Linked DNA regions of Homo sapiens. The protein of the gene in region 4 purifies or fractionates together with the protein of the main gene of each other region. This does not show direct contact. Each region holds a gene or a part of one and is shown on either strand. Other genes may lie near its edges. The genes, in order: DDX50, ELMO2, AKAP1, RAC2, SPCS2, TLN2 and CLCC1.

Region 1 (3,500 bases), on a different chromosome or scaffold from region 4:
AACAAAACTGAAGTGAATAGTGGTCTGGTATTGAGGTGAGGATAACTTTGGTTCGGACGTGTTGAGATATGGAGCTGGTGCTTAGATTCTTAGAGTTGGAATGTAGGTGAGGAAGGGAGTCTGGAAGTACGTATTGAGCCATGAAAATAGTACTAAAAGTGAACATAGAGAACAGATACTCAAGGAGCATCCACTGGAGGAGGAAGGAGAGGAACCATTGAAGAAGATATGTGGTAGAGGTAAGAAGATAGAGGTAAGAAGGGAATATAAAGTGTAACTGAAACCAAGTAGACGGAGAGTGCCAAGCATTGTGGGTCTAAAGTGGAATTATTTATTTAATCACCTTGAGATGTTACTGGGCTTAGACCGAGAGGTCTCCTTTTGCCTTGCTTCAACTTCTCTCTGTAGTGCAGGGCCCAGAAGCAATTCAAGCCCCAAGGCTGAATCGATAAATAATCTTATTTTTCTGTAGAACCTATTGGTTTGGAAAGATGTGGTCTAGTGTAGTTAACTGCAGATCATATGATGTAATGTGTAACTGCAAAGCATTTTCACACATATTGTTCAATTCTCACAGCAATTCCAATTTTATGGATGAGAAAATTATATGTGAAATAACTCTAAAAGTTGTGTAAGTTATGGTGAACATTTTGGTGGTAGTAGTTTTTACTATCACTAATTACTGCTATCTATTTTGAATATTTGACCAGGTAATTCATTTTTTTGAGAGTGGCCGAGATTACAGGCGTGTACCACAACATGCAGCTAACTTTTGTATTTTTGTAGAGACGGGGTTTCCCCATGTTGGCCAGGCTGGTCTTGAACTCCTGACCTCAGGTGATCCGCCCAACCTCGCCCCCCCAGAGTGCTGGGATTATAGGCGTGAACCACCACGGCTAGCCACCAGGCTAAAGTCCTAAATTCCCAAATCATTTATTGTGTTCTGTAAATATCACAACACTGGCCACTAGTTTGAGATTTTAAAATTGAAGTTGAAAAATAGTGTTTTTTAAAAAAATTAACTGAATTTAAAACGTAAAAAAAAAAAAAAAATCCAGGATTACTGTCCTTCCGTGGAAGTATAACAATTGGACTTCTATATGAATTATATAGTTTCTTTTTGTTTTCCTTTAGCCTGTGAATTGTCAAAGTGCAGGGAGGAAGCATAATGTGAAAAGAGAATGGGCTTTCAAGTCAGGCAGTGCTAGATTCAGTTTCTAGTACTTATAGCTGCAGGAAATCCCACATGTGGATCTTTGGCAAGTTGCTTAACCTCTTACAACTTCTGTTTCCTTGTCTATAAAATGGCAAAGGTGGCTGGGCACAGTGGCTCACGCCTGTAATCCCACCACTTTGGGAGGCCGAGGCTGGTGGATCACCTGAGGTCAGGAGTTTGAGACCAGTCTGGCCAACAGGGTGAAACCTCGTTTCTACTAAAAATACAAAAATTTAGCTGGGCATGGTGGCGTATGCCTGTAGTCCCAGCTACTTGGAAGACTGAGGCAGGAGAATCACTTGAACCCGGGAGGCGGAGGCTGTAGTGAGCCAAGATTGCGCCACTGCACTCCAGCCTGGGTGACAGAGCAAAACTCTATCTCAAAAATAAATAAATAATTAAATAAAATGGCAAAGGTAATACAGGTTCACTATCCCTTATCCAAAATCCTTGGAACTAGTTGTATTTTGGAATTCAGAATTCTGGGGATTTTTAGAAAGGTAGCACCCCGGTAGGGTTTGGGGCCTGAAACCTGTAATCAAACACCTTAATATTAAATATGAGTGGTCATACTAAGCAGGATAAATGAAGACTATAAAGAGCCTCACGTTAGTTCAAGTTAAATTTTGCCATCAAATGAGTTCAGGTAAGGTTTTGCCTCCAAATAAGTTACAAAAAAAACTTTCGGTTTTCAGAGCTTTATGGATATCGCAATTTCGGATAAGGGATTATGGACCTGTACTTCCCTTATAGGGTTGTTATGAAGATTTAAACAAGATAAGCTGAAAACACATTACACAGTGCTGGGTAGGTATTCAATAAGTATTAATTTTTTTTTCTCTTGGAAATGTTGGAAGTTTTTGCTTGTTTAGTAATTTATAATTCTGGGGTTGTCTTTCTTTCCCTGAGGAGAAACCGTTTTAATTTTCCTTAAATCTTATGATGGGATTAGAGAGGGGCTAGAGGCTGAGTCTTGAGAATGCTAGGAAGGGGATGAGAAAGATAGCAACAGTTGAGGCTTAGAGCTTGGCATTAGTAAGCAGTCTGGATTTCTACCAGGCAGGTTTTCAAAGTAACTGTAGATTGAGCTGAACTGGTGGGGGAGTCATGCTCTAACTTCTCTAGAGTCTTAAAAGAAAACCTCTGACCATCTTGTCATTGCTTCTTTGTTTGTTCACAGAGTGACAGAAGGAAGTCAAGGCACCATTATGACTCGGATGAGAAATCAGAAACAAGAGAAAATGGTGTTACAGATGACCTGGATGCTCCCAAGGCCAAAAAATCTAAAATGAAAGAGAAGCTAAATGGAGACACTGAAGAAGGATTTAATAGACTTTCAGATGAATTCTCCAAATCTCATAAGTCAAGAAGAAAAGATCTACCAAATGGAGATATAGATGAATATGAAAAAAAATCAAAGCGAGTATCATCTTTAGATACTTCTACTCATAAATCAAGTGATAATAAACTAGAGGAGGTATGGAAGCTTTTTATTTTGCATTTGACATTGTTGTTGAACTATAGGTTGATTTGAATTTTTTTAGGCTAATTAGAATTGATTCTATAACATTTCTTGATTAGTGTCTAGTATTCTTAGTTGCACTAGAGTCTGTACAGGTGAAGCCTGAGCCTTTTTTCCTTTGGCCCTTGTTTATTTCACTGTATGGCCTTTTTCTTGGGGCGAGGTGGGAGCAATAGTTAAATTTAAACCTTTTCTGTACATTTGGGTTCCTAAAGTTATTCGGAATTGCTTGATGGTTATCTACTTGAATTTCTTTTCTTTTTTCTTTTTTTTTTTTTTTTGAGTCAGAGTCTCTCTCTGTTTCTCAGGCTGGACTGGAATGGCACAATCTCAGCTCATGGCAACCTCTGCCTCCCGGGTTGAAGCGATTCTCCTGAGTCAGCCTCTCAAGTAGCTGGGATTACGGGCACGCACCACCATGCCTGGCAAATTTTTGTATTTTTAGTAGAGACGGTGTTTCTCCATGTTGATCAGGCTGGTCTTGAACTCCTGACCTCAAAGTGATCCACCTGTCTCGGCTTCCCAAATTGCTGGGATTACAGGCATGAGCCACCACACTGGGCTGATAATTAGTAATTCTTTATATTATATAAATACGATAATTGCTGATATTCATATACATTTGAGCTTAATGCATAATCTTTGGGGAAAAGTGTTGAATCCTTGTGTTATGGCCTTTTTTTTTTTAATTTGTGAATTTGCTGTTTGGCAGGAAGCACATGTGTTTGTTGATCTAAATAAGGTCCTTTAAATCTGTATTTC
Region 2 (3,066 bases), on a different chromosome or scaffold from region 4:
CTGTCACACTCTGGATTGTTTATCTGTGAGCTGGGCTCTCCACATTACTCTTCAGCAGCAGCCATAGGTTGTCATTACAAAGATAAGGTCAACTAGGAATGAGTCATTTACCTGGGACTGGGAAAATTCTCCCCTTTTCAGTTTCTCTGTGGTCAGCTACCCAAGAGAACTTGACAGATCCTTCCTCCTAGGGGCTCCTGGTCACATGTTGTAATGGATCCAGTGTGGACTTTGAAGCCAGATGGAACTGGTCCTTCTGACAAGGGCCCTGTAGTTCCATCTGCAGCACTGGAAGATACTAGATATTAAATGAGTGATTGCATTTGAGACCCTATGTGCCTGGTGAGCTCTGAGAGCCATCACTGGGAACTAGAGGTGGGACTTCTGGCAGAGGAGACACTTGGGCAGGGCCTGAGCTGCCGCTAGTGGAATTTGGTTGAGAGGAAATGAAGAACAAGCAAGTGGGGAACCAGGTGAGCAACGGTGTGGAAAAAGGAAAATGGCAGCAGAGGAAGCAGGAAGAGTCAGGGAGCGGTGGGATCAGAAGGCTTCCTGGTCACCCCCTCTTAGCATGAGACCCACCAGTTCCATTTCTTTAGTATTTACTCTTTAATATGTATTGACTGGATTATTTTTAATTTTGTTTTCGGGGGGGCGGGGCACAAAATTGAGATCCCACAGTGACTTCTGTTTGTGTCTTGCTTCTTTTCACCTAATACATATTTCCCTTCTCTCGCTTCTGATTTTGGGTAACTTCAGGTAGATGATGCCCCAGTACTCAGATCTCATTTTGCTGTATTCGTTTATTGCATTTTTAGGTTCTCCTTCATATTATTGTAAGGAGTTGTAATATAAAACCCCTTATAAAAACCAGATCTCTTGAGAAAGTGAAGGATCACCTCCTAATTTATCTTTGCTATCATTCCAAATCAGTTTTGCCTATACTGATTAGTTCCAAAAGGAACTGTTGTGAGCCCCATCAGAAAAGAGACCTTGGCAGGATCTCCTGCTGACCAGGGGTCACGATGTGACATTTTGCAACTTGCTCCCCACAGTACTGCATCTGGATTGATGGCCTCAGTGCCCTTCTGGGGAAGGACATGTCCAGTGAGCTGACCAAGAGTGACCTGGACACCCTGCTGAGCATGGAGATGAAGCTGCGGCTCCTGGACCTGGAGAACATCCAGATTCCCGAAGCCCCACCCCCCATCCCCAAGGAGCCCAGCAGCTATGACTTTGTCTATCACTATGGCTGAGCCTGGAGCCAGAAACGACGGTACCCAGGAGAAGGGATTTTGGGCCCAGGAGAAACACTTACATTCTGGTGCCTTGTCTTTTGCTTGTACAGAATCTGTAGTGATTTTGGTGGCCAGTAAATGCCAGCCATTTCTCAAACCCACCTCGGACCACCCAGAGTTTCCTCTTGGTCCCTGTCTACTAAGAGTCATGAAGGCAGGGTGCTCTGCCCACTCCATCACCATGAAGCCTGGGATTGGGCCACGAGGAACAAACAGCAGATGCCCTTGCCTTCCAGTCCAAGAAACTGCTTCTTGAAATGGATTTAACAACAGCCACTCACCTTTTCCTCCTGAGCCTGCTCTCTGATCAGCTGGATCCCCACGTGAGCAACAGCTGGCCCAGGAAAGGCTGCCTGCAGAGGACAGGTGTGTTGGGCGTGTTGAGAGCCTTGAAGTGACTACCTGTATCTTAGATCTGAGTACAAGCCTGAGGCTTTTGCTTTTGTCTTTTTTGATGAGGGCTCACTCCAGCTTCATATGGTGCCAAGACGTTGCTGCTTCTGAGGTTGGCTCTAACATCTCTGGTCTTTAGAGCCACCAGATCTCTCTGGCCCATACAGATATCAGAGCAGACGGAAATTTCTCCCTGCAAGCGCTCAGTCTCATCCCAGCAAGTCAAAGACCTCCTGGCCAAGTCCTGCCCTCTTAAGTCTCCAGGAACGCTGCAGGGAAAACCCAGCTGAGGCCTGGGCCTAGACTGTGGTGAGGTCACTAGATTCTACTGCTCTTCCCCCACATTAATACCTTTTCCTTCCTCAGAGAGAAATCTCCCCTAACCTGAATTGCAGCCCCCTCCAGTTTGCTTTCCTTTGGCCTTCCAGACCCCAGGAAGTTGGCCTTCCCTTCCTAGTGCTATGGTTTCTGCCATTGGCCATGATTTCAGGGAGCTGGCTGAGGCCGGCTGAGGCCACACCTGTGCCAGTGGGGCTTCCCTGGTGCTGCAGCACTTGTAAACCACACACACAGCCTCTCTCCCTGGACATACGTTAGCACATTGGCATTCAGTATTGGTGGCCTGGCATGGTAGGTACTACCCAATGAAGAGTGTACTATATATTTTCATTACTATAGGCCATACTTATACAGACGTGTATATATATTTATATAAGATCTACCTATCTTAGGATGGAACCTTGGGGAAAAATAAAATTGAGGGGAAGTAAAAAGTATGTAACACTTCCAGTTGTGAGCCAAGATTGTAACCAGAGAGCAGCCAGGAGCTTCCTGTCAGTAACCATGTTTTCAATAAATACTCTTTCATGTACAAACTGTGGTTCCTGTTAACAGCTGTTTGTCTGTACTTGCCCCCTGCCCAATGGTGAAGATTTCACCTTGACAAGACTTGATCTCCATGTATCTGGGAGACTCTGGAGAGCTCCAGCTGGAGCCCTTAGTCACCTTCCAAGAGTCCCTTCCTCCTCATCATTCGCTCCTCCCACACATACACACACACAGACACACACCTGCTGGTTAAGAGTGTTCACAGATTGCTGCACTGGGACGAAGCGTTTTCTGCTCAACCCTGCTGGGTACAGCAAGGTAAGGCATACTGTACACCCCCATGAACACATCCTCCCTCTTCTCCCTGCCAGGGACACAGCCAGGGAACAGCTCGAGTACTTGTGCCTTACAAAGAAGACACGCTCTTTACCCTGTGTGTTGCCTGTGCATAGTGCCCAGCCTTCCAGCTGGTGTTTTAGGCTGTTGCTCCAAACCTTGGCCTTGGTAGCTGGGAGACTTAAATGAGGGTGGTGATGAAAATAGATCT
Region 3 (3,500 bases), on a different chromosome or scaffold from region 4:
CGTCTACTTTCACCCTCTTATATCCGCCGTAGTCCACGTATCGAATCTCCACTTCGTTGGTCTCCTCGTAGGAGGCAACCACTTGGGCTCGCCACCAGGCCCCGTCCGCACCAGGGGCGGCACAGATGACCGTTACTGCAGGGTAGGGAGCAGAGTGCGTGGAACGCCTGGGCCAGGGCAGGGCACCAAGGGCCACCTGGCCACTACCCACCTCCCTGCGTTACCTCTCAGAGGCCTGCAACCTCCACAGTGCAGGGGACAGGAACAGCAACCGGCCCCAAGCAAAGCCTCCCCCAAGCCCAAGACCAGCCGAGGGAAAAACCTGGATGTGAGAAGTTCAGCCTAGCAAGTGTGCCGCCCCCGAGGCCATCCAGACTGAGAAGCATTCAGTCTAGATCCATTACTCCAAAACTTCTGGGACCCAAGAGGGACACAGATGAATAGGAATAAACCAAGTAAATATAGCACTCGGGGAATGGGGGCCAGGGCCAGCCTTACATTTAAAAGAAAGTCCCTGAAGAAATCAAGTGCAGCAGATCTCAGCATCCTCATACCTAGGGTGTGCTCCAGCCCACAACTCAGCTGGAGAGCTTGACCAGAAGGGGCCTCCTGGGCCTAAACCCCCTTCTTCTAGCCTTTGCCTCTGGAAGGTGCTGACAGCACCTGGGCAGCCACCCAGGATCAAGGAGTCACTAACCCACTGTGGGTCAGAGGCAGACGAGACCAGGAGGTAAACGTTCCCAGCAGCACCCCAACAGCTGCCCACGCTGGCCAGGATGAGGACCTGTGACATGAGGCTGACTGTGCTGGGTCCTGACCCTTGGAGAGAACCCCTGGCAGTTACCCCTCAGGCTCCAGTTCAGTCTTTACTGCTGGGTTAAGGCAACTTTAGAGAAGCCAATGAAAACTAAGTCCTTATCCTTCCAAAAGGAAAAAATCCACACAAAAGGCTACAGAGATCACTTCAGAAGGTTTTCTACTGCACTGAGTGACCCTGCCATCCCCTGGTGAGGAATGGGTGATGTTCTGACATTCCATCCTCTGTGATAAGGACAACAAAGATAATAATGACAAAGGCTGGGCTCAGACCCCAGATCCTGCTCACTTGGGCAAGTCACCTGAGGCCCAGTTTTCTCATCTGTTAAATGGAGATGACCCAACACGCTGCACAGGCTTGTTGGACTTGGGGATTTTTTTGTGGTAACCATTATATGCATAAGTGCTTTATATGTAATACATACAGTATTCAACACTAATTCCTGGAACAAGTGGGTATCACCCCCTTTAACAGATAATAAATAGGTGGCAGATACTATGACACTGGCTTTGAGGGAAAAAAAAAAGAAAAAATTAAAAAAAAAAATTAGTGGCAGAGCTGGGATCTGAATCCCTGTGTCAAAACTCTACTCCAACACCCATCACTCTGCCAGCCAGTGGAAACCCCAGCTCTGCCTTGCCAGGAAACCCACCCCAGCTCCATAACAATGGCAAGAATTGAAGGATGCTGCTTCCATGAAGGATCGCAGAACAGCCTCCTCCTGATCAGGATCCAGGGCAGAACAGGCAACCCCAGGGGTCCCCCTTCCCGACCCCTCAGGGCACTGCTTACTTTCCACTGGGGTGGGCAAGGTGGGGATTCCAGGCTGAGAGTAACAGAGGTACATCTGCTGGTCGAGGCTGCGCAGCGCGTGGAAGGTAGGGTGTGTGTGCTGCTGCACGAACAGGTGCCCGGCATTGACCTGGTTGACCACAATGACCTCCACGGTGATGCCATCAGGCAGCATGAGCTGTAGAGGGGAAGGGGGAGCGGTCACTGAAACAATCCTTCTTATCTCATCTTTGAATAAGTCCCGAGACCCAAGGGCAAGTCTCTGGGCTAGCATATCTTTGAAAAGGGCAACTCAAGACAACATGGCACCCAGAAGGTAGAGGTTGAAGGACTACTTTAACAACAGAAAGTGTTCGACACCCCTGTGGCTGTTGTCCTGCAATACCACGAGCAGCCATTAGGGGCAGTCTCACCTCAGGGCCAGGCAGGGAGGGTCCCACAGACACTGGGCAACCAAGAAGCAACTGCGGAGGTAGTGCTGGGCCTTGCACAGGCCTGGGCAGGGTCCACCTACCAGCAGTGCCCTCCCTCCCACTTCTGTTGATGAATCTATAAGACCCAGGGAGGGCAACACAGGAATGAGGTGGCCGCTGAGAACAAGACTCCTGAAAATAAGCAGTAGGCAGGCCCCAGGCCCTTTAGCCAACTCCTGTGGACTGGCAGACAACCCCAGGAGCCTATGGTCTGACAGCATCTACGCTGCCCTCCCAAGAGCAAGCAGTGGCCTCAGGTCAGGTCCATGGTCAAGGTCTAGCAGAGTCTGCTTCCTATTTGCTCTCCCTCCTACTGCTTACCCTCCTGAGGTCAGGAGTTCAAGACCAGCCTGGCAAACATGGTGAAATCCCATCTCTACTAAAAACATACAAATTAGCTGGGCATGGTGGAGCACACCTGTAATCCCAGCTACTCAGGAGGCTGGGGCAGGATAATCGTTTGAACCTGGTGGGCAGAGGTTGCAGTGAGCCAAGATCATGCCACTACACTCCAGACTGGGCAACAGAGTGAGACTCTGTCTCAAAAAAAAAAAAAAAAAAAAAAAAAAGAGAGTGAGTCTACGACCGAGCCTCCTGGGAAAAAACTCTTGATTCAGGAGTAAAGCATAAAGTGGTATTCAGCCTACTCTCACATATCCACAGGAAAAAGATATCCCAATCCTTTCCCTCCAGCCCAAGGGCCTTTGCAAAGGGGAAGACACAAAACTGAAATGCCTACCATCCATAAAAAAACAAAAAAACAAAAAAAAAACACGAAGGAGGACAATTTCCTTGGAGCTATAGTCAGCCCATCTGTCCATCTGTGTAAAACGTAGTCAACAGTCGTTGGCCCACAGAATTCTGCAATTCTACTCCCAGTGAGATAAGACCCAACCAGGGCCAGAGGCACACGGCAGGATATGGGCCACGGCCCTGAGAGACCCTGCAGTCAGCAGCACACAGGGGCCCTGGAGATAGCAGCTCTTCCCTCTGCCAAACTCCTGGGGCAACCTCCCAAGAGTCACTGGACTTCCGGGCCTGGTGGGGAGTATTCATTCTTCTTTGTAATTTAGGCACCTCCTGGGGAGGGGAAGGGGAAGGAGATCCTTCACCAGGGCCACTGTTAAGGCCTGACTCAACCAGAAGAAAGAACAAGCGCCATCCAAACCCATGATTCTAGTCCCACCCAGGTCTCAGGTGGTGAACGGCGACCCTGGACACACCCAATCTCCTGTCCGAACTACACCATCCTTTCTAAGCAAACGCCTAGAAAACTTAAAAGGTGCCCAGGGGGAGAGCCAGGAAAAGTAGTCCTCCCATGTGGGGACCAAGAGGCCTCTGGTTTCCTGCCAGCGCTATCACCACCTAAGCCCTGTCCCCAGAACACAGTCCCATAGCAGAACCGACCAGCAGAGGCC
Region 4 (2,500 bases):
TTCCCATGACCTCCAGTAGTGGAGGTTGAGGGTTTCTCGCCCAAATTCCCAAATTCCCGCCAGGCTCTCAGCCCACTTTGGAACTCACCCTCCCCCCCAGTACACACGCTTTCGCTGGGGTTGCCGCAGTTCTGTTCCAGCATGGCATATGGTCCATGCCTGGCCAGTCAGAGCACAGCACTGCACCACTCTGACAAATATGATTGGTTAAAAGGGGGCCCAGGACCTAAGCTGGTCCAATCACAGTAAATCTTAGTTAGAACTTTGCCTGGGATAGACATTTGCTCTTTTTGGCTGAACTTGAACTTGGAAGGATGAGGCCCTGAACTTGAACTTGGAAGGATGAAACCCTGAACTTGAACTTGGGAGGATGAAGCCCTAAGTCGCCTGCCTGAGAATGAACCAGCCAGCAGAAGGCAGAGCCCAGAGCTAAACAAGCCTCGATGACATCATTTGAATACCTTGATCAAGCTGCACCTGAAATCACGATATCTCCAAACTTGAATCAATAAATTTATTTTCTGCTTAAGCAGGTTGAGTTGGGTTTTCTATTTGCAATAGCAAAAGTCCTGACTGGCAAGGTTTAAAAGTTTGAAGACTCTCACAGGTAAGTGCAGCTCAGGATCCTGTGAGTGCAGCAGAAAGTCTTAAGAAATGGCAGGGGCTGGTTGAACCCAGATTTTCCATTGGCTGAGCAGATATCCCCAGAGGCGTAGAAAATTAAATTTGTTTTATGTTGTTCCAAAAGAGGAGAACTGAGGCCAGAGGAGCACACTTCTGAGACACTCATTTTTGCTGGGTAGAGGAACTCTCTGGCAAGCAGGACCATCGATATTAGAGCAGCTGGCCTCAGGAGGGAGTAAGAGCCCCATCCCTGAAGGTACACAAGTTGTGGCAGCAACCATCTGGCCTGCAGTTTCCAGAGGGGAGTCAGGCGTGGGGTGGGACTGGAGTGAACGGGTAGATGCTTCCACATGCGGCAGTTGGCACTGACGGCAGGAACACGGGGGTGGCTTAATGGGTCCTGGGGCTCCCCTCTGGCCCTCAGGAAGGCAGGAGCATGAGGGGCTTGGGATGCAGCACCTGCAAATTTGCACGTTCCTGGCCTCAGGAGGCCTCCAGTACAGAAAAGACCATCAACGAAGCTCTGCAGCCATCTGCTAAGAAACGCCACAGGGAGGGGACAGCATGGCCAGCCGGGGTGCCATCAGGCTTTGGGTGGGGATCCTGGAGGATCAGACCCATCTAGGTGGGAGCGCTGGGGTGCAACCTGGAAGGAAGATAAGCAGGGAAAGAGAATTTGGGGACATGCAGAATCCACAGCTCTCGCCTTCCTGGCTCACAGCTCATTCCCACCTCCAGGTCTTTGCTCAAGGTTTGACTCCCACCAGGACTGCCAATGCTGCTCTCCCCACCTCACCAGTCCTCTCTGTCCTTCTGGTCCCACACCTCCAGGAGGCCTTGTGGGCTGCCTCCAACTCACTGACCCCACCATCTGCCCCCTGGGGATCATAGCTCAGGCTCTCCCACCTCCACCCACATATGTGGGTGCAGGATCTCCCTGGCTCGACTGGGCTCTCCTAGGGCCAGGGACCAAGGCATCTTTTCCATCACCTCCTGCAGGAATGGGCAGAGTGGGGCTCCGTGACACCCACTCCCTGGCCCGGGGGTGGGGGGTTACCAGGCATTCATTCATACCTTGGGCCTTGCCTCTGGAAGATGAGCTCCAGAGAGTGAGACTGGCCCAGGCAGATGACAAGTAGGCTGCGGAAACTGAGGCAACCTCCATACCCACCTTCTTTCTGTCCTGGCCTAAATGCCACTCACAGTGAACCAAAGGCCACTGCTCAGCCAGGGCCTGCTGTGTATGGGAGTTGGGCACTAGAGTGGGGGACTCTTACCCCTAGAGGAGGCTGCAGGCGCGCTTCTGCTGCCGCGTGGGCTGAGGGCACAGCACGGCCCGGATGGCCTCGTCGAACACGGTTTTCAGGCCTCTCTGGGTGAGAGCTGAGCACTCCAGGTATTTCACCGAGTCTGGTTGGGGAGATGGACAGGAGAGCCAAGGCCTAAGTGGCGGGGGGGGTTCTGGGCCAACATGTCTCCTATGCCATACAACCCCTTCCACGCCATACACCCCTCCCACGCCATACACCCCTCCCACGCCATACACCCTCCCGTGCCATACACCCCTCCCACGCCATACACCCCTCCCACGCCATACACCCTCCCTCCCACGCCATACACCCCTCCCACGCCATACACTCCTCCCACGCCATACACCCCTCCCACGCCATACACCCTCCCATGCCATACACCCCTCCCACGCCTCCCACGCCATACACCCCTCCCACGCCATACACCCCTCCCACGCCATATACCCCTCCCACGCCATACACCCTCCCACGCCATACACCCCTCCCACGCCATACACCCTCCCTCCCACGCCATACACCCCTCCCACGCCATACACTCCTCCCACGCCATACACCCCTCCCACGCC
Region 5 (3,500 bases), on a different chromosome or scaffold from region 4:
ACTTTACGGCAACACAGCCCATTTCGAAGCAAGTAATGTCTCTACTACAGTATGGAGAACCATCTGGAAGAAGGGGAGTTGCTATTAGGTGCTTCTTTTTCTGATTATTACTTCTCATCATGCTCAAAAACTGCTCATCAACTAAAATGTATGCTGCTCCTCATGTTCTCTCTACTACTAATTCGGGTATTTTAAAAGCTATCTTTTTTTTTTTTTTGCCTCAATTTTGTCTTCCTCAACACTAATTGCAAATTGCTTTCCTTTTGTAATAATAAAAAGAGAAAGCAAAAATTAGTTTCTTTTATGTGGGACCTCACAGGATAAATTAAAAAGAAGGGCAGTGTGCAGAAATAAGTGAACCTGGGTCCAAGACTGCCATCTTTAGCAAGGCTTGTTTGCAAGGTTGGCCCTTGGCTGGTATCTGACAAGCTGGCTGATAAAACAAATCCCTACACTGATATAAATACATTCCCTCAGTGATAAGAATGGCTCACTGTGCCTCAACTGTTTGTATAAATGATGTGATTTATGTTGAACACCTTTCCTTCTGGAAATCTAGAAAAAGTTCTTTATGTTGCCAGTATCTAAAATTTCAAGATGATATCCCTTACACAGGTCAATTTTCACCCACTGTAAAACTGCTATTGCCACTCATCTTTTTATTGCAGCACTAAGCAGACCCTCAATCCAGAAACCAATGTCCTTCAGATTAGAAAACTAGAGTTCAAAGATGTTAAGTGCCATACAAATAGTAAATGACAGGCCAACAAAATTCTTTAGGGCTAAATTACAAATACATGGCTCATTATAAAACTGTCTCTTCTTCAGTGATATAAACTTATTTTTATTTGCCTTAATCCCTGAACTCAATCCCAAAGCAGATTGTGGCCTTATTCTTAAAGGTGTACTGTACTTCAAATCACAAGCTGATTGGTTCTGGTCAGGTGCAGTGGCTCACACCTATAATCCCAGCACTTTGGGAGGCTGAGGCAGATGGATCATTTGAGGTTAGGAGTCCGAGACCAGCCTGGCCAACATTGTGAAACCCCATCTCTACTAAAAGTACAAAACTTAGCCAGGCTAAGTAATCCCAGCTACTTGGGAGGCTGAGGCAAGAGATCACTTGAATCCAGGAGGCAGAGGTTGCAGTGAGCCGAGATGGTGCCATTGCACTCTAGCCTGGGTGAACAGAGGAAGACTCCATCTCAAAAAACAAACAAACAAACAAACAAACAACAACAACAACAAAAAACAAGCTGACTGGATTTAGACTAAATACAAATGTATGTAGGCAAATGCTTTTTTTCCTTACCCAATAAGGTGAATCCTTATTATCCAAGGGAGAATGGAGTCAGGCTACTTTATTTTAATCCTCACTTTTCCACTTAATACTGGAAGGCACTGGGCAAATAATTTAACCTCTCTAAAGCCTTATTAGTTTGCTAAATTGTAAAATTAAGATGGTGAAAGTATCTATTTCACAGGTTGGTATGAGAAGTAAATAGTGTAATTATAAAACATAGCACAGTGCACAGTGCCTGGTACCTAGCAAGTACTTCATAAAAATTAGCTATTGCTGTTGCTATTAATGATATAAAACTATATAATACACTGCATCATGGTTACCTGACTGTATGTATTGTCTCCCTCACTGGGTCACAGGGACTATACACTTTTGTATTCTCAGAGCCTGGAACACAATATACTCTCAATAGCTTTTTTTTTTTTTTAATGTCTAAATCCTTATAAAGAAAAAAAGGGAAGAAAAAGATCTCTAAAATGTTACTCTCCAGTTTAAATTTAGCAAATGTAAACATGGTCAAAATGATCTCACTTGGTTCTTATTCACAGAATTTCTTTAAGGGATGGAGGGCAGACAGAAGGTATAATCATAGCTACCATTTCCTGAATGCCTAACATGTGCTACGGATGTGCTAAGTATTTTATATACACTATCTCACTTAATTTCCACAATAACTCTACAAGGTAAGAACAGTTAAAATCCTCCTTTTACAGATAACACTAAGGGTTTAAAAAACCTGCCAAAGGTGAAAGGCAGAAAGTGGTAAAGCCAGGACTCAAAACCCATGCTCTCTCATTATTCTACACTGCTTTCCCATGAAGTGCAAGGAAAGGAATTATTAGCCATCAAAAACACAAAGAACAGGAAACAAAGAGATCCCTGAAGTGACAGCTATACATTGTATCTTGATTCCTAACAAGCTCTAGTAATAACATTTTAAAAACCTAAAAAAAAAAAAAAGATGTTAATCTTGAATAGGACCACAAAACTCACAGGGTATCAAAAATGTTGAACCTCCCCCCCCAATGTAAAACCAACTGCAATTTGGCTGAAAACAGAGCTCAAAAAGTACTATCTTAAAGAAATTACTCCCCTACACCACCCACTGAAGAGATAAAGACAACTTTTTTTTGAGACAGAGTCTTACTCTGTCACCCAGGCTGAGCGCAGTGGCGCGATCTCAGCTCACTGTAACCTCCGCCTCCTGGGTTCAAGCAATTCTCATGCCTCAGCCTCCCGAGTAGCTGGGATTACAGACAAGTGTCATCACAGTCAGCTAATTTTTGTATTTTTTAATAGAGATGGGGTTTCACCATGTTGGCCAGGCTAGTCTCGAACTCCTGGCCTCAAGTGATCCACGTACCTCAGCCTCCCAAAGTGCCACCACACCCGGCCAAGATAAAGACAACTTTTGTCAGACTAACACACCTGATGCCAGAGCTGGCTGGCTAACCAGTTCAAAGAAAACAGGCATTTGATAGCTTTAATAGAACATTATGAAGAATCATTTCAGTTACGTTTCTCCACTGCACATTTGAATAATAAAAAATTCTACAAAGACACTTCACTGAAGGTATGGCATCAGGAACTCCATAAGTGCTTAGGAAGGATATTAAACACAACTCAGGTCTGAAGGATATGTAGTCAGTACAGGAAGGCATTTTCCAAATTAACTCATTTGAGGGAATACAGCCTTCTGTTCCCATGCATCTCACCACACTCAAAGGGATAGGGTGGGATCAAAAAAAGAGACAAAATAAGCCAGGCACAGTGGCAACATGTTTATAACTTCAGCACTTTGGGAGGCCAAGGTGGAAGGATCGCTTGAGTTCAGGAGTCTGAGATCAGCCTGGGCAACATAGCAAGACTCCTCCGTATCTACAAAAAAATGTAATTTAAAAAATTAGCCAGGTGTGGTGGTGCCCACCTAAAGTCCCAGCTACTTGGGAGACAGAGGCAGGAAGATGGCTTGAGCTCAGGAGGTATAGGCTGCAGTGAGCCGTGATTGTGCCACTGCACTCCAGCCTGGACAATAGAGTGAGAATCCATCTCAAAAAACAAAAGGACAAAATCCTTGGTCATTAGGATATGTCCAGCAAAACAAAATTGTTTTGAGTATGACACATGAACACCTTCAATTATCTTATTTTAATCACAGTGAAAACAGAAGTTATGCAGTGATATAAAAGACCTGAGT
Region 6 (3,500 bases), on a different chromosome or scaffold from region 4:
AATCAGCTGCTCCTGGCACACAGGGGAGCTAATAGTGGGGCTCACAACCTGAAGTGAGACAGGAACAGGTTTTGGGCACTGTGGTTGAATCCTGGTCCCTCTCCATGTGCCCCCGCAGTCCCATCAAAGCCCTTCCTGCTCTGGGCCTCGGTTTCTTACTTACAGGACCACTGCTCGGTTTCTTACTTACCTGACCATTTCATTCAATGAAACCATTGCTTCAGTCTCACACGCTCTGCTATTCTACTTCATCCTTGTGATTTGACATGTCCCACTAATTTATAACTTCATTAGTCACATGTGACAGTCCATACTACTGCCCTACTTCCATACAGAGAAATTTCTGAGATTTCCCAATTATACCTCCTTCATTTTAGGATCCTTTGAATTGAGTCTTTTGAGTTGGGATACAAAGACTACCTAAAAGAATTCTATTTCTATTCCCAGAAACACCTGAAACTCTGCCTCATAGTCCTTTAAAGAACAGGGGGGTTCTGTCAGTTCCTTGTAAATTCTAGCAGCGTGGACAATGAAAGCTTGAGGGAGACGATGCTGCAAATCTTACCACAGGCTATTGATGCCAAGCTGAGCCAGATCACAGATCTATACAACATGACAGGCCATCAATTCCAGAAACGGACATTTCCCATCTTCTGCTGCATCATCACCGAGAGGACACATGAAGTAGAGGGGAAAGCGTATTTGGAGGCAGATGGACTTGAGTTGTAACTCTAGTTCTGCCACTTACTACTTCTGTGGCCTTAACCTACTGACATCTAAGGGCCTCAGATTCCTCATCAGTAAACTAGAGATAATGGTGCTTAATTTGCAGGATTACCGGGGAGATGTAATGAGGTGATGTATGACACACTGAGTGTGTATACCCTGGCAACAATTAAAATCCCCACTCGGACCCTGTGCAGCCTAGAAAGGGTTCCCATAAACTCTGTGGATTATTTCTGAACCCATTTGTAATGCTGTACCACGCATTGCAAGAACTATTTTTGTGCAGGTGTAAAGATGCACTGAGAAGTCCAAAGGGGAGACACAGCAATTTGCATATAGAAATGAACTAGTGAAAAGTACCAACGGCCTGAGGACTTGGGCAAAGAACAAATGATAAAAGCAGAATTTGACCGCTTATGCTAAAATCCTATCATCACTTAAGACACTTTAAGGAAGCTCTAAATCTCGGACTATTTAAACAAATTCTGCCCCTGCTACACACCAAATGCCTGGAGGCAGGTAACAGCAGGTGATACTGGGTAGAAAGGGCTGGGGTGCCAGCTGGCTTACCTTGGCACATGCCACAAGCTGGGAGGTGGAGAGGGCACACTGGGTGGCAGCAGCAATTACCCTGTTCTGTAGGACAGTGTCTTCGGCCACTTGGGCAACATTCTTTGCCTTTAGTACCAACATGGCAGCTGCATTGGCAACAGCTTTGGCCAAACTCATTAAAACATCCTAAGAAAAGGGAATCAAAGACTATTCATTTATTTTTCTCTAATCACCTTTCACAGCCTGAAAATAAACGTTATTAAAATTCCATTTGATCTTTTTCCTTCAGTACTTTAGAAGTTTTTTTACTTTTTTTTGAAATGTCAACTTATCCTTAGAAGTAATTAAAAAAGGAGACTTGTATCCTAATAACTCAGTCTCTTACATCCATTAAGTAGCATAGGTTTAAATCTAAAATAGTTAATTTGAGGGAAGGGTCATTATTTTAACCACTGATTCCCATTCATGCACTTATCTAACACGAAGTCTTGACCACGTCTCTTGAATGAGTGGCTGATATGGTAGATCAGGAGAAGCTGAAAACATATCCAGATGCCACAACATCATGTGCCATAAGAAGGTTATAATTCATGGCCTCCAGTCATCATGCCCCACTGCAACTTGAAAATGTATCTTTTGGATTTCTACTTTGCACAAAGATCCAAGTCGTCATCAGAAATTTAGCCATATCTCTACCTCCAGAGGGCAACATTTGATGTGCACAGACACATAGCTGGCACCAATACCTATAGCTCAAGAGCCAAGAAATGCTCTGAACATGAGTTATTCTCAGTGTTCTGCAGCCTTCTGGGTAGGAATTAAATTATTACAGAAAGCAGAAAGAGAGCCTATATAAATACACTAGCTATAAGATGGTCTGACTGAAAATGCGAGGAGCTAGTTTATGCTTCAACTCAATGACTAGGCATTCTGCCTGCAGAAAGAAGAATCCTTTGATTGAGCCTACCAGATTTGTCACCCATCTGTCTGACCTGAAGAAGAACCATGGTTACAATTAATTTACTTCTTTGCTTTTAATACTGAAAGTAGTTTATTTGACTTGGAAATGCCTTCCCAAACATATGAGCCATTTTTATTTGGAACAAACACGTCAAGGCTTTTCCCTTCAAGGAAATACGGTCAGAAGTCTTTATTAATTCATCAGATGATAAAGAGCACATTTGATTCTAAATGTAAAGGGCACCCACAGCGTCTTTACAGTGAGATATTTTATGAGAAGATACATTGGAAATAATATTCAGCCTGCACAATTTTACATAGAACAAAGACTAGATACAATCCAGCTAAACCAGAAACCCATGAATCTATCAAGTAAGCTGATTTTAAAATGGACAAAAACTAAGTGGTCTTAAAGGAGCAGGTTATTCCAGTCTTTCTCAGGTCTGTGATGTTTCCTGGCTATCCAAGGTATAATTAAAGCCCATGGTGCTGAAAGCAGAAGATCCCTTTGGGATCTGACTGGCACTTGTCTACCACACAACTTTTAGGAATTGCTCCCACTATGGCAAAGTTACAATTCCTGGACATCTATCTCAATGCTCAGTGAAAACACAGCTTGAATGTCACAAATTATTAAAAAGATTTTTAAAAATAACTTTCCAAAGTAGGTCATAGTATTCCCTCACTTGATATGAATTCATCTTTTCAGATGGGGGGCCAGGATTTGGTCACATAGAATCATGATTGTTCTAAAGGACTTTGTTAGAATTGTTTAAAGAAATCCTGTTCCTCTTATTAATTTTGTCCAAAAAAATACAGTCAGAAAAAGAATGTGATACTACAGCTATAGCTGCTGACAAGGCCTTTGTCAAAATTTTCAACAAGACCACTATTATATAGCCAGTGTAAAATAAATCTTTGTTAACTATGGGAACATGCAGTACATTAAGAAATCAAGAAAAGCTCTGAGATATGATCTCAAGAATCAGAAGAATAGAGTAAGAAATCCAATGTCAGTTACCCATAACTGGAGGAGGTTGCAGGATCACCTTACTGCCCTGGTCTTTACCTAGAGAGCTAAACAATTGAAAACATTCAAGTCTGGCCTGTCCCTGCTAACAAAGGCTCTGTAGGACTGTCACCCTGAACCTGAACCTGCTTCCTTTGCACATCTGAATAGAAACAAACATTAGGAAGCAGGGTTGACATTCACACACAATGAAAATAATCTGCTAAAGCAGGGAGAGGCAGGAAAAGCTTTT
Region 7 (3,500 bases), on a different chromosome or scaffold from region 4:
CTGGCTTTCCCCTCAAGTGAGATAGGAAGTCACTGGAAGACTTCTGAGATAGGTGACAGGTAATTACTAACTATAAAAGCTGGAAGGACCATCTTAAGTTGTTTTTTTTTTTTTTTTTTTTTTTTTGAGACGACGTCTCACTCTGTCACCCAGGCTGGAGTGCAATGGCACGATCTCGGCTCACTGCAACCTCCGCCCCCTGGAATCAAGCAATTCTCCTGTCTCAGCCTCCCAAGTAGCTGGGATTACAGGTGCATACCACATCACGCCTGGCTAATTTTCTTGTATTTTCAGTAGAGATGGGGCTTTGCCACGTTGGCCAGGCTGGTCTTGAACTGCAGACCTCCAGTGATCCGCCTGCCTCGGCCTCCCAGTGCTGGGATCACAGGCGTGAGCCGCCGCGCCTGGTCCATCTTTCTAGATACATGTAGATATGTTTATTTTTATATGAAACTATGGGAAGGGATTCTATAATTTCCCAGATTCTATTATGCTCATAACTGTTTCAAAGGTTTAACAGCTGCAATTTAAACATTTCAAATGACAATACAAATTCCTCTCTCAAACAGAAATGGAAATGTCCCTTTAAAAGACTGATAATGGTGAAAAACTTCTTCTTACCATTCTACAGGTAAAAAGTATAGTCTAGCCAGCCAATGACACTGAAGATTTGGGGAAGCAATGTTTTTGATCCCTGGCCCCAGCCCACTCTTCCATCCAGCTAATCCTTTAGGGCTCTACTGTACCTTCCCTAGAGCTCCGGGCCTTCAGTGATGCCTTCTCTCTGATCTCTTCAAAGATAGAAATTTCTGTCATGCTCATACGCTGGCTTCCCATGAAGGTTCATATGAATTACCATCTGCTCTAACAAACTACTGTTAAATTGTATTTTACATAAAAGTTAAATCTAATTTTATTTCTTCTGAGGAAGCTGAACTAACTTTTGACCAGAAAGGGGAGAGAGTGAGTGGCTGTATCACTCATGATATAATTAAGGGTGAGGGGTAAAAGAGTAAAAACAATCAGACCTCTTCCAGAAGGATTTAGAACCAGTAATGAAGGGACAGCAGAATAAAAGAGTTGCTGACTTACACTGGGTACCACCGTGGGATGCTCTCGTGCCTCTGCGTCTGGTACATCAAATGCCCGGAGCACTTCAGGGCTCTTGTTGCCAGTCTGAAATCTCAAGTCAACATCTCTCTCTCTCAAAATCTCTCTTCTACCCTCATACGTTTTGGCATAAGGGCCTTGCTCAGTGGGGCCCATTTGGCCCCTATAATGGAAATCGGCATCACCTGCTCCACCATCAGGTCTATAATCAATTTCCTCCTGCCGTCTTCTATCCCGTGGCCGAAGTGCCTGGGGAGGTTCGCTCTCAGGACCGCCTATATGTCTCAGCACATGAACTGATTTTCCAGCACCATAGCAGAAACTCTGTAAGGAAAAGAAATACATTTTCCTGAGGACTCAATGGCTAACTTACAAAAGTTATGAGGCATTTTATTCAGAGTGCTAACAAAGTTATGTAATTTAACTTACTTGTGGCATTTATAGACATAAACATGTTAATTTGACTTTTTTTCATTAGAGACCTCTTTAGATTAATACAAGGCCAGAGTGGCCAATAAAACTTAATAAATCTTTCAGTAGACATTTTAATCAGCTAGACACATTTCGATTGAACTATAACAATGGCAGGCTGAAGCCTAGATATTTAAATTAGAAGGTTCTAGTCTGATAATTATTCATGTTTCTAGATTCATGCCCATCATATAAGGTAAATGCTGAAAATATTTAAAGTTGTATATCATTATGTAAACAATCTTCTGTACATTTTCTTTTTACAAATATAAACTAGGCTTAAGTTACAGCTAAAATTCAACAGGTTTTGATTCACATTCCATGGGAAAAAGTAGGCAGCAGTTCCTTACAGTGTGGCCCAGGGACCCCCGGGGGATACCTGAGACTTTCAGGAGATCTATGAGATCAAAACTTTTCATAATACAAAGACATTATTATTTGTCTTTTTCACTGTCCCCTCCTGAATATACAACGGAGCATTCCAGATGCTAGAGTGACAGCCTCACTCAGACTCAGGGGATGCATGCTTGCGTGTACAGTACTCGTATGTTTTAAATTTGTTTTAACTCCTAATATGTAAGTATCAATAAATATAATCACCTTAAGTAAGAGCTGTTTGTGGGCTTCAATTTTTAAGACTGCAAAGAGGTCCTGAGAACAGAAACTTTGAAAATTTCTGTACTAGTTTTTCAAACACTACTATTTGAAGACAAAAGCAGCAAAAGTCAAAGAGCATAACTTTCCTGAGGGAGCACATGAAACAAAAACAGATGGTGAAGACTCTGCTGATAATTTCAGTTTCAGAGACTAAACTATGACTATAGAACTAATGTCACCTAACAAAAAAATACCCGTCAACCACATAATCCTGTAATCACAAGCCAAAAAACAAAACCAAAAAAGAAACGATTTCAAAGTGAACAGAGATAGTGAATCTTGTATCCTTAGGGAAGAGAATTTCCCTTGGCACATCTGAGTTCTTTTTGTTTTATGCGACAACTGCTTTACTTGGGTAATAGCTAAAAAATCGATAACAAAAAACACTGAATAGACCATGGAGGGATGACGAGTAATATTTCTTCTTAATGTCTGCTCCTGGATCCCCAAACTCTTTCTCAGCATACCCATGTTCTTCCACATCCCTTTCTGGTTCTGTGTCAAACTCAATGCTCTACCCTTCTCACTGCTGCAAAAACTGACTAGAAATAAGAAGTCCCCCTTTCTGGGAGACAGAAATCAACTTCCTATTTCCTGTGTATTAATTTACCAAGGTTAACACATTTAAAAAGAGGTTATTATTCTAAATCACTGCTATGACATATGCAATCAAACTAGAGAACTACTTTCTTGATTATAAAAATATACAAGTAAGTATAATATGTCTGTATCATTTAGAGGGGCAGAGGGGAGGAAAAAAATCTGTATCACTTAAAAATCGCCTTCTCATTAAGCGTGACTTAGCCTGATTTACAACATCAAAGAAGCCCAATAATTTTAGCATTGCCTTTTTTTCTGTAAATCTTGCTAAATATTGACAGTGCTAATATTTAATACTAACCAGTATTACTAATATTAATACTAAGATTTAATATAAATCTTGCTAAATACTGACAGTGCATATATATATATAAATATAAATATATAATATATAAATATATATTATATATAATAAATATATAAATATAGACAGATATATAAATATAAATATATATAGATAGATATATAAATATACATATATGTATAATTTTTTTTTTTTTTTGAGACGGAATCTTGCTCTGTCGCCCAGGCTGGAGTACAGTGGTGCGATCTCGGCTCACTGCAAGCTCCGCCTCCCAGGTTCACCCCGTTCTCCTGCCTCAGCCTCCCGAGTAGCTGGGACTACAGGCGCCCGCCACCACGCCCGGCTAATTTTTTGTATT

Evidence for each region.
Region 1: the proteins of RAC2 (region 4) and DDX50 purify together in Homo sapiens (affinity purification with mass spectrometry, with the first as the bait; one study listed by BioGRID). This does not show direct contact.
Region 2: the proteins of RAC2 (region 4) and ELMO2 purify together in Homo sapiens (affinity purification with mass spectrometry; 2 studies listed by BioGRID and IntAct, with this or other methods). This does not show direct contact.
Region 3: the proteins of RAC2 (region 4) and AKAP1 purify together in Homo sapiens (affinity purification with mass spectrometry, with the first as the bait; one study listed by BioGRID). This does not show direct contact.
Region 5: the proteins of RAC2 (region 4) and SPCS2 purify together in Homo sapiens (affinity purification with mass spectrometry, with the first as the bait; one study listed by BioGRID). This does not show direct contact.
Region 6: the proteins of RAC2 (region 4) and TLN2 purify together in Homo sapiens (affinity purification with mass spectrometry, with the first as the bait; one study listed by BioGRID). This does not show direct contact.
Region 7: the proteins of RAC2 (region 4) and CLCC1 purify together in Homo sapiens (affinity purification with mass spectrometry, with the first as the bait; one study listed by BioGRID). This does not show direct contact.

Annotation. Positions count from the first base shown.
Region 1 is NC_000010.11:68,904,315-68,907,814, forward strand, and holds part of DDX50 (ATP-dependent RNA helicase DDX50), read left to right. Parts: intron 1-1,955; exon of another isoform or gene 1,956-2,023; intron 2,024-2,396; coding exon 2,397-2,693; intron 2,694-3,500. UniProt on the Homo sapiens protein: ATP-dependent RNA helicase that may play a role in various aspects of RNA metabolism including pre-mRNA splicing or ribosomal RNA production.
Region 2 is NC_000020.11:46,365,550-46,368,615, reverse strand, and holds the end of ELMO2 (engulfment and cell motility protein 2), read left to right. Parts: intron 1-1,055; coding exon 1,056-1,256; 3' UTR 1,257-2,566; downstream 2,567-3,066. UniProt on the Homo sapiens protein: Involved in cytoskeletal rearrangements required for phagocytosis of apoptotic cells and cell motility. Acts in association with DOCK1 and CRK. Was initially proposed to be required in complex with DOCK1 to activate Rac Rho small GTPases.
Region 3 is NC_000017.11:57,112,746-57,116,245, reverse strand, and holds part of AKAP1 (A-kinase anchor protein 1, mitochondrial precursor), read right to left. Parts: intron 1,788-3,500; coding exon 1,610-1,787; intron 136-1,609; coding exon 1-135.
Region 4 is NC_000022.11:37,224,770-37,227,269, forward strand, and holds the end of RAC2 (ras-related C3 botulinum toxin substrate 2), read right to left. Parts: intron 2,035-2,500; coding exon 1,904-2,034; 3' UTR 1,902-1,903; intron 1,271-1,901; 3' UTR 501-1,270; downstream 1-500. UniProt on the Homo sapiens protein: Plasma membrane-associated small GTPase which cycles between an active GTP-bound and inactive GDP-bound state.
Region 5 is NC_000011.10:74,959,266-74,962,765, reverse strand, and holds part of SPCS2 (signal peptidase complex subunit 2), read right to left. Parts: intron 1-3,500. UniProt on the Homo sapiens protein: Component of the signal peptidase complex (SPC) which catalyzes the cleavage of N-terminal signal sequences from nascent proteins as they are translocated into the lumen of the endoplasmic reticulum.
Region 6 is NC_000015.10:62,705,050-62,708,549, reverse strand, and holds part of TLN2 (talin-2), read right to left. Parts: intron 1,465-3,500; coding exon 1,297-1,464; intron 49-1,296; coding exon 1-48. UniProt on the Homo sapiens protein: As a major component of focal adhesion plaques that links integrin to the actin cytoskeleton, may play an important role in cell adhesion. Recruits PIP5K1C to focal adhesion plaques and strongly activates its kinase activity.
Region 7 is NC_000001.11:108,935,985-108,939,484, forward strand, and holds part of CLCC1 (chloride channel CLIC-like protein 1 isoform 1 precursor), read right to left. Parts: intron 2,325-3,500; exon of another isoform or gene 2,182-2,324; intron 1,435-2,181; coding exon 1,093-1,434; intron 1-1,092. UniProt on the Homo sapiens protein: Anion-selective channel with Ca(2+)-dependent and voltage-independent gating. Permeable to small monovalent anions with selectivity for bromide > chloride > nitrate > fluoride.